Linked DNA regions of Homo sapiens: region 1 is linked to region 2. Evidence: fine-mapped expression QTL. Tissue or cell type: unexposed skin. Region 2 holds a variant in brackets; the other region holds the start of a gene. All regions are shown on one strand. Distances are between the middles of the regions.

Region 1 (5,151 bases), 440 kb after region 2:
GCCACAACAAGAAAGCCCTTACCAGCTACGGCCCCTCAATCTTGGACTTCTCAGCTTCCATAACTCTAAGAAATAAATTTCTTTCCTAATAAATTACCCAGTTTCAGATATTCTATTATAAGCAACAGAAAATGGACTAATACAGTAAGGGTACATACAAATCTTTAAAAAAAAAAAGCTGAATTATACCTAGTGGCAAAAGTGAGAGAGACCTTCCCCTTCCACTCCCTTTTTCTTAAAGCATTCCCTCGTGCAAACTTGTAATTAAAAATCCTTTATTGGCCAGGTGAGGAGGCTCAATCCTGTAATTCCAGCACTTCGGGATGCTGAGGCAGGAGCACTGCTTAAGCCAAGTTCAAATCAGCCTGGGCAACATGGTGAAAACTCATCTCCTAAAAAATTGGAAAAATTAGCCAGGTGTCGGTGTGCACCTGTAGTCCTAGTTACTTAGTGGGGTGAGGTGGGAGGAGCCCAGGGAAGTGGAGGCTGCAGCTGTGATTGCGCCGCTGCAGCTGTGATTGCGCCACTGCACCGAGCCTGGGTGACAGAGGGAGTCCCTGTCTGAAAACAAAACAAAACTCCTTTTTCTGCTTCTTTGATACAAATGTAAATCTTTTTGTTTGTTTTTTGTTTTTTGAGACAGAATCTTGCTCTGTCGCACAAGCTGGAGTGCAATGGTGCAATCTTGGCACACTGCAACCTCTGCCTCCTGGGTTCAAGTGATTCTCCTGCCTCAGCCTCCTGAGTAGCTGGGATTACAGGCACCCACCGCCAAGCCCGGCTAATTTTTGTATTTTTAGTAGAGATGGGGCTTCCCCATGTTGGTCAAGCTGGTCTTGAACTCCTGACCACATGATCCGCCTGCCTTGGCCTCCCAGAGTGCTGGGATTACAGGTGTGAGCCACCACACCCAGCCTGTAAATCTTTTTAAAAGTGAAATAAGCATTTGGCCAGTTTTACAGCCCAAGAAAGACTTTCTTAAAAGCTTTGGAGCCTACTGTTCGAAAGCGTACTCTTTGAAACCTACTCTTCCAGGAAGATAGATCCCCAATCTCCCCAACTCTGTGAGTTTTTAGCCTGGGCACCTGGTTCCACATCATAAAGATATTTTTATTTTTCCTCTGGATAAAGGCAATTAGATAACAACCACCCCAATTACCAGTAAATTCAGGATAAACTACATGTAGCAAATGGTACTGTCAAGTCCTCTTACCTAAGGACAAATTATTTTTTATCTTGAGAACACGTATGTAATATGAAATCGGTTCTATCTGTCCAGCTACATTTAAAGGAATTAGAATTCTTCCTGCTATCCCATTAGCAAATTGCCCGTGATGTGTGAGGCAATTTAGTTTGTGCTTATTCAACAATGAAGCTGTTTAGCTCTCTTCTACAATTGTGGACAGGAGTTTCTTGGATGGCAGATATGATATTTTAAATTATTTCCCTAACAGCTTCCATGATGTGAAACATGCCTTTGGAGGGTTTTAATGTACCGATCAACTTTTGGACAGAAACCGAATCATGCATTTGTCCGCTGGGAGGGTGTGTCTCGCGCAGACAACTGTTCCCATTTCCAAAACACACACCAGGCTGCGAGGTCTTGGACCACTGTGACTCCCAGGTACCTCCCGTCTGAGGCCGGGCCGAGCGCCCGCACAACTGACCCTCTGACGTCCCTTCTTCCAGGGCACCTGCAAGCAGAGATTGACCTATGGCTCTGGGCCCCTCAACAGCCCTTCCACAATCGGGAGAATCCCTTTAGTTACACAAAGGCCCGGAGCAAGCTTTAAAATGAGAGGCCATCAACAGGTTTTTAAGAAATCTAATCCTCCGCTGTGACGCGGAGCTCAGGCAGGAAAGCCAGGGCAAGTTTTCATACCAGTATAGTCAGCAAAGGGGCGGCGGGGGCGGCGCAGCACCCTGCACTCACACAAGTACTGCCTCTCCCTCTAGCTCGGCTCCTCATTTTACCCCGAGCACACGCAAGCCACCACCCCGGCCTGGGGAGCCCCCCTGCCCAGTCCCCGCCCACCTGCCGGAAACCCCGGGGTCCCACCTGCGGACTTCGAAGAGCGTATCCCGAGCTCGCGGTCGCCCCGCCGCCGACCCCGGGTCAGCCTGTAAATGCAGTAGCAGGCGCCCGCGCCGAGCAGCAGGCCCGCCGCCACCCAGCCCGCGCCCCGGGGGCCACCCATGCTGCCGCCGCGGCAGAGCCGCAGCGCCGGGCCAGGGCAGGAGGCTCGCGGGGGCCAGCGCGGAGGTCTCCAGCGCACGCGGGCCTAGCCGCCACAGCAAACGCCACCTGACCTGGATGTGGAGAAAGGAAATGGGGTCTGAGCTCCGCCTCCCGGAAACGGCCTAGCTCAAAGCCTATAACCGCCCACTCCAGCCCGGCGCGTCCCGGCGGCTTCTCCCAGGCGAGGCGGGGCGGTGCGGGGCGCTGCACACCGGGAGGGGGGGGTCGGACGGTGCGCCCCACGCGGAGACGCCGGGGCCCGCAACCCAGAGCCGAGCTTCCCGTCTCTTCCCCCGGGGCGTGAAGCAACCATTCCTCCCTCCCGCCCCTGGCAGCGGAGCGCGGGGCGGTGCCACGCCCAGCCCCGCCCCCTGGTTGCCGGGACAACGCCCGCACGCGCCCGGCCCCTAGTCCCAGCGCGGGGAGGGTACTATCGCAGCTTCTCCGTCAGGCCTTGGGCCATGGCCTCGCTACGCAATGCCAACCCGAGGCTGAAGAACTACTTCAAGGAGAACTACATTCCTCAGGTCTGCGAGGTACTGGACACGCGTGGCAGCGGACACAGACCGTCGGTGGGGAGTTAGAAGGGGGAGGAGTCAGGAAAGACTTCCCGGAGGAGGGACTAGGTTTCGGGATTGGGGAGGAGTGGAGGGAAGGCGGGGCAGAATGCGAGAAAGTGAAGTCAAATTCGGACTTGTAGGCGATCAGGGCTGAAGACGCTGATTAGAGAGAAAACAGAGGGTGATGGTGGCTGCACGTGGGGAATGGGTGACATCTCCCAGGGGGAATGAGCACAAGGCCCAGATCGGAAACCCCAAACTCAGATTTTAAGGTTTGGACAAGAAGTACCTGAGGAGTGGAGGAGTGAGAAAGAAGTGCCAGAGAGCCTGAGGAGGAAAATCAGCAGACTGGCATTATGAAGAATGTTGTCAGAAGTAGGGAGTAGGCACTAGTCACCTAAGATAAGGAGCTGGATTCTGCCCAAGGTGAGCCTGAGGTTTCCATGGAGCCGTGAGGGCAGAAAATAGATGGAGGTTAGCGGAGGGAAGAGTGGAAGCTGAGACCTTTGGTCAGTGTAGTCAGCCCTTTGTGAAGGTAAGGACCCTCTCAACCAGGATTGCCTTTAGACAACAGGAAGGACTGCCCTCCTACTGCCGTTATAAGAGTAGGGAAGGAAGACAGGAAGGGGATAGACATTAGGTTTTGTAGGTTTGGGGGTAGGAAGCTGAGAACATTTGCCTTTGTTGACCTCTTTTTTTCTCTACAAATAGTTGGTGAGATATTTACCAAGAATGTGCGTGTTTGAGTGGGGATGGGGATGTTGGTGCAGTAGGAGGTTCGAGCAAAGATACGTTATGTGGAGAATGAGGGAGAGAGATGTCTAGGGAAAGAAAGAGGAGGTCCTACCTGAGGGTAGTAACGCTCCTAGGCGGTTGGGAGGGCAATTTGGTAGAGACCCCCCACCCGTCTCTTTTTTGGATGGTAATTGAGAAATATTTATTAAGATGTTAAATACATGTACCCTTTAACCAAGCATTTCTACTTCTAGGGATCTACTTTAGAGAAATACTTGCACATGTGTTCAGGAGGATGTACAAGGATATTCATTATAACTTTGTTTCATAGTAAAAATAGTAAATGACCTAGAGTGACTAAGCGAATGAGGCATTATGTAGAATAAAGTATATCTGTACCTACTAAGAAGAAATGTCCTCCAAGACATATTATTATTATCATCATTATTATTGAGACACGGGGTGTTGGTCTGCCACCCAGGCTAGGGTGTAGTGGCTCCATCCTAGCTCACTGCAGCCTCAAACTCCTGGGCTCAATTGATCCTCCCACCTCATCCTCCCAAGTAGCTAGGACTACAGGCATACACCACATGGCTGGCTCCCAACACATATTATTAAGTAAAAAAGAAAAAGTGCAAGTTGCTTAGCAACTGTCCATTCTGCTCTAGCTGTCCATTTGATTTCATATATGTTGTATATGTGTTTATGTACATATATGTGTATATATCTAGCTTTAAGACAATAGTGCATGCATAGAACCTATGCCAAACTGTTAATAACAGATGTCTTGTGGAATGGTTTTGGGGGAAAAGATGGAGAATTCTAACTTTTTACTCTGTCCATAGCTGTATTGTTTTAATTTATTACAGTGAGTTTTGTGTTGTACCTCTATACAATTGTGCTTGAAAATATGTAGGGAGAATGGTACCCATCTTCCCGGTTGTGTGATTTTCTCAAGTAGCAGTCAGTAAATCAGATGTAGGTACAGAGATAACCAAGTTGACTTCGTCTGGGATAGGAATTTGCCAGGCATATATTAATAGAATGGAAAGGCAGTAGGTTAGGGAGCTAAGCTCCTGAGTATCTGAAGTGATGGGCCAAGGACTCTAAGGACTCAGTGGGAAATGAGAAAAGGATATCATACTGATACATGGACAGAAAGTGAAGACTCCTCTAAGAGGTGAGTGAAGAGAAGTAGAGGGAGTAATTAAGTGAGGGAGCTGGAAACACAGGAGGTGGGGGTCAGAAAGTGGAACGTTTATATTTACAATTCAGGGTGCAGCCATTCTGAGTGATGGCTCAGTCTGTGATATGGCGGTGGAGCAGGTGGCAGAAATGGACTTGAGTTGAGAGTCAGGGTACATCAAGGAAGGGATGGCCTCTTCTCATCTAGGCCGCCAGTTACTATAACATCACAAAGCTGCAATGAGGCAGTCCCCAGTTCCCCCTCTGGGTGAAAGCATTCCTTCCTTACCAGCTTACTGCATTGTTCTGCACCCATAGAGGAGGCCCTTATATGCATTCTCCATTGTCTAAGATCATGTTCTCCTGAGGAGTCCTTCACTCACCTCTGCTAGCACACTAGCAGGAAGTGCAAAGGAGCAATCCTCTGGGCCC
Region 2 (5,151 bases):
AAAGAATTGGACCTATAAAATCAAAGCATACTGTGAATGAGATGCAACATATATTATGGATATGTTTAATTTCTAACTTTTCTGGGATAAAATTAATGTAAAATCATCTCTTCCAGAAGAGAAAAGGAACTGTGAGGGTTGTGGAGGAAGGGGTTAAGAGAGAAAGAGAGAGAGGATCAACACACAAGATGTACTCTGCATTAATCAATTCATAGTCTTACTACTTAGGTTTTCTTTAGACACCTTCAAATCTATTTCTTCAGTAGTATCTTGATGAGTACATTTCCTCAAAGTGTTAACTGTTAATCAGGTTTAGGAGTCAAGACTTATTAAAAGAAATATCTATCCAGAATACTTGAATATCCATACATAAATAATCAAATATTAAGAACATTACCAAGGTAAATTTATAACAGTATTATCTTAGAATCCTAATTTCTTAAATAATCTATTTAATAAGATTTTATTTTACTTTTGGCCAAATTAAACATGGCTTCACATTATAGGACTTAAAATTAGCCTTTATAACAAGTTTGTTATAAACTCATTTCTTAAACTCAAAAATCATTTGTTTATCTAATTAAATAGGGTGGTTGCCAGGATCTGGAGAAAGGGGAAATGAATACTTTTTCAGTAGCTATAAAGTTTCTGTCATGCAAAAGAAATAAGTTCTAGAGATCTGCTGTATGACATAGTGTCTATGGTTGACAGGATTATATTGTGCACTGAACATATGTTAAGAGGATATGTCTCTTGTTGGGTGTTCTAAACAGCAACCCCCCAACAAAAACTAAAAACCACACACACAAAAGAATACAAGGAAATTTTTGGAAGTGATGGATCGATTTGGTGCCCTGCTTGTGGTGATAGTATCATGGGTTGTGCATATTTCCAGAGTCATCAAATGTATATTTCATTTTTTAAAACAAATTTTTTAGAGACAGGGTCTCACTCTGCTGCCCAGGCTGGAGTGCAGTGGCACAATCACAAATCACTGCAGCCCTGAACTCCTGGACTCAAGCAGCCTCCTAAGTAGCTGAGACTATGGGCGTGCACCACCACTCCAGCTAATTTTTTTTTTAACAGTCAGGATCTCACTATGTTGCCCAGGCTGGCCTCAAGCGATCCTCCCACTTCAGCCTTTCAAAGTGCTGGGATTACAGGCATGAGCCACCATACCCAGCCAAGATGTATGTTTTAAATGTGTGTCATTTTTGTATATCAGTTATATCTTGATAAAGCTATAAAAAATTCATTACAAGCTTTTTAGTTACCCAGATAATACTTTCAGAATGTGAGTAGTAGTTAACTCTATTCCCTATCCGGTATTAAAAAAAATAAAATAAAATGACCAGCCCAGTGCAATTGTGATTCTTCATGATTCTTTCCTAATAAACGAGACACTGTAAATAAAATTTTTAAAATTAAAAATCATCTCTACTTCTTTATATGCTATCTAAAAAGTTAAATATCTGTCAAAAAATTAGTTATTTCCTTTTGATTTTCATTTACAATGTGTACAATATACTTTTTTTCATGTGTAGACTAATATCTATGGTTGTGTGTGTACTAATATCAGACAAAGGGCATATATCTCAATCCTCCTAGTATTTATGTTCCTGAAACAATGTATTTATATTAGTGTTTTGTCTATAGAGTGTATATAATATGAGCAGTTTCTACTTAAAATAATTCTATGTCTTGCTTAAAGTGAAAATTTGCTTCAAGTATTTTTGTCACAAATTTGTCATAAAATTTTGTTTTTTTGTTTTAAGTGAATGAGCACTGGCTATTCCATGATGATTGTACAGTAGAAAGATTCTGTGACTCCCCTGATGGTGTGATGCTCTGTGGCAGTCATGATGGACGGGAGGTGTATGCAGTGACCCATGACCTGACTCCCACTGAAGGCTGGATTATGCAATTCAAGGTGAAATGTTATGATCTTGATTATATAAACAACCATACATTAGCAATATAACAAAAAATATCAGAGAAAAGATGATCTAATATTTCATTGACTTAGTATATACTTTGAAAAGTAAAATTTACTATTAAACTAATATACAACTCAACTATACATTGCTTAATGATTAAAAGTATTTTATTTCTGAACTATTTCAAGTTGAAACTTTTTTTCATCTTTTTTTATTATACTTTAAGTTTTGGGATACACGTGCAGAACATGCAGGTTTGTTACATAGGTATACATGTGGCATGGTGGTTTGCTGCACCCATCAAACCGTCATCTACATTAGGTATTTCTCCTAATGCTATCCCTCCTCCACTCCCCGACAGGCCCCACAGTGCGTGATGTTCCTCTCCCTGTGGCGATGTGTTCTCATTGTTCAACTCCCACCTATGAGTGAGAACATGTGGTGTTTGGTTTTCTGTTCTTGTGTTAGTTTGCTGAGAATGATGGTTTCCAGCTTCATCCATGTCCCTGCAAAGGACATGAACTCATCTTTTTTATGGTTGCATAGTATTCCATGGTGTATATGTGCCACATTTTCTTTATCCAGTCTATCATTGATGGGCATTTGGTTGGTTCCAAGTCTTTGCTATTGTGAACAGTGCCGCAGTAAACATACGTGTGCATGTATTTTTATAGTAGAATGATTTATAATCCTTTGGGTATATACCCAGTAATGGGATTGCTGGGTGCAATGGTATTTCTAGTTCTAGATCCTTGAGGAATTGCCACACTGTCTTCCACGATGGTTGCACTACTTTACACTCCCACCAACAGTGTAAAAGCGTTCCTATTTCTCCACAGCCCCTCTAGCATCTGTTGTTTCCTGACTTTTTAATGATCGCCATTCTAACTGGTGTGAGATGGTA[T/C]CTCAATGTGGTTTTGATTTGCATTTCTCTAATGACCAGTGATGATGAGCATTTTTTCAAGTTTGTTGGCCACATAAATGTCTTCTTTTGAGAAGTGTCTGTTCATATCCTTCGACCACTTTTTGATGTTTTTTTTTTCTTGTAAATTTCTTTAAGGTCTTTGTAGATTCTGGATATTAGCCCTTTGTCAGATGGATAGATTGCAAATTTTTCTCCCATTCTGTTGCCTATTCACTCTAATAGTTTCTTTTGCTGTGCAGGAGCTCTTTAGTTTAATTAGATCCCATTGGTCTACTTTGGCTTTTGTTGCCATTGCTTTTGGTGTTTTAGTCATTAAGTCTTTGCCCATGCTTATGTCCTGAATGGTATTGCCTGAGTTTTCTTTTAGGGTTTTTATGGTTTTAGGTCTTAACATTTAAATCTTTAATCCATCTTGAGTTAATTTTTGAATAAGGTGTAAGGAAGGGATCCAGATTCAGCTTTTTGCATATGGCTAGCCAGTTTTCCCAACACCATTTATTAAATAGGGAATCCTTTCCCCATTGCTTGTTTTTGTCAGGTTTGTCAAAGATCAAGATGGTTGTAGATGTGTGGTGTTATTTCTGAGGCCTCTGTTCTGTTTGATTGGTCTATATAACTGTTTTGGTACCAGTACCATGCTGTTTTTGTTACTGTTGCCTTATAGTATACTTTGAAGTCAGGTAGCATGATGCCTCCAGGTTTGTTCTTTTTGCTTAGGATTGTCTTGGCTATACAGGCTCTTTTCTGGTTCCATGTGAAATTTAAAGTAGTTTTTCCAATTCTGTGAAGAAAGTCAATAGTAGCTTGATGGGGATAGCATTGAATCTATAATTACTTTGGGCAGTATGGCCATTTTCACGATATTGGTTCTTCCTAACCATGGGCATAGAATGTTTTTCCATTTGTTTGTTTGCATCCTCTCTTATTTCCTTGAGCAGTGGTTTGTAGCTCTCCTTGAAGAGGTCCTTCACATCCCTTGTAAGTTGTATTATTCCTAAGTATTTTGTTCTCTTTGTAGCAATTGTGAATGGGAGTTCACTCATGATTTGACTCTCTGTTATTGGTGTACAGAAATGCTTGTGATTTTTGCACATTGATTTTTGTATCCTGAGACTTTGCTGAAGTTGCTTATCAGCTTAAGGAGATTTTGGGCTGAGACGATGGGGTTTTCTAAATACACAATCATGTCATCTGCAAACAGAGACAATTTGACTTCCTCTTTTCCTAACTGAATACCCTTTATTTCTTTCTCTTGCCTGATTGCCCTGGCCAGAATTTCCAATACTGTGTTGAATAAGAGAGAGAGCTAAGAGAGGGCATCCTTGTCTTGTGCCTATTTTCAAAGGGAATGCTTCCAGTTTTTGCCCATTCAGTATGATATTGGCTGTGGATTTGTCATAAATAGCTCTTATTATTTTGAGATATGTTCCATCAATACCTAGTTATTGAGTTTTTAACATGAAGGGCTACTGAATATTGGCGAAGGCCTTTTCTGCATCTATTGAGATAATCATGGCATTTTTGTCATTTATATGTTGGATTATGTTTATTGATTTGTGTATGCTGAACCAGCCTTGTATCCCAGGGATGAAGCCAACTTGATCTTGGTTGGATTTGGTTTGCCAGTATTTTATCAAGGATTTTCACATCAATATTCATAAGGGATATTGGCCTGAAATTTTCTTTTTTTGTGGTGTCTCTGCCAGGTTTTGGTAGCAGGATGATGCTGGCCTCATAAAATGAGTTAGGGGGGATTCCCTCTTTTTCTATTGTTCGGAATAGTTTTAGAAGGAATGGTACCAGCTCCTGTTTGTACCTCTGGTAGAATACAGCTGTGAATCCACCTGGTCCTGGGCTTTTTTTGTTTAGTAGGCTATTAATTACTGCCTCAATTTCAGAAATTGTTATTGGTCTATTCAGGGATTCGACTTCTTCCTGGCTTAGTCTTGGGAGGGTGTATGTGTCGAGGAATTTATCCATTTCTTCTAGATTTTCTAGTTTATTTGCATAGAGGTGTTTATAGTATTCTCTGACGGTAGTTTGTATTTCTGTGGGATCAGTGGTGATATCCCCTTTATCATTTTTTATTGTGTCTATTTGATCCTTCTCTCTTTTCTTCCTTATTCGTCTCACTAGTGGTCCATCTCTTTTGTTGATCTTTTCAAAAAACCAGCTTCTGGATTCATTGATTTTTTTGAAGGGTATTTTGTGTCTCTATCTCCTTCAGTTCTGCTCTGATCTTAGTTATTTGTTGTCTTCTGCTAGCTTTTGAATGTGTTTGCTCCTGCT

What was found. PIP is the estimated chance that this variant, and not a neighbour inherited with it, causes the effect.
Region 1: it holds the start of ARMC10, and the variant in region 2 is fine-mapped to the expression of ARMC10 in unexposed skin (GTEx, PIP 0.95).

Annotation. Positions count from the first base shown.
Region 1 is chr7:103,072,320-103,077,470 of GRCh38, reverse strand. It overlaps ARMC10 (armadillo repeat containing 10), which reads right to left and starts at 2,331. Exons shown (of 7, transcript NM_031905.5): 1 at 2,060-2,331; 2 at 1,590-1,694. The coding sequence starts at 2,198. It overlaps FBXL13 (F-box and leucine rich repeat protein 13), which reads left to right and starts at 2,675. Exons shown (of 21, transcript NM_001394494.2): 1 at 2,675-2,775. The coding sequence starts at 2,701. RefSeq lists an enhancer at 1,585-1,634 and a silencer at 1,905-2,744.
Region 2 is chr7:103,507,630-103,512,780 of GRCh38, reverse strand. RELN (reelin) reads left to right here. Exons shown (of 65, transcript NM_005045.4): 51 at 1,776-1,930. SLC26A5-AS1 (SLC26A5 antisense RNA 1) reads right to left here. Exons shown (of 4, transcript NR_110141.1): 4 at 1-12. Among named protein-coding and RNA genes, the nearest start is that of SLC26A5, 64 kb to the right of the region's middle. The variant T/C (reference allele first, on the strand shown) is at 2,842.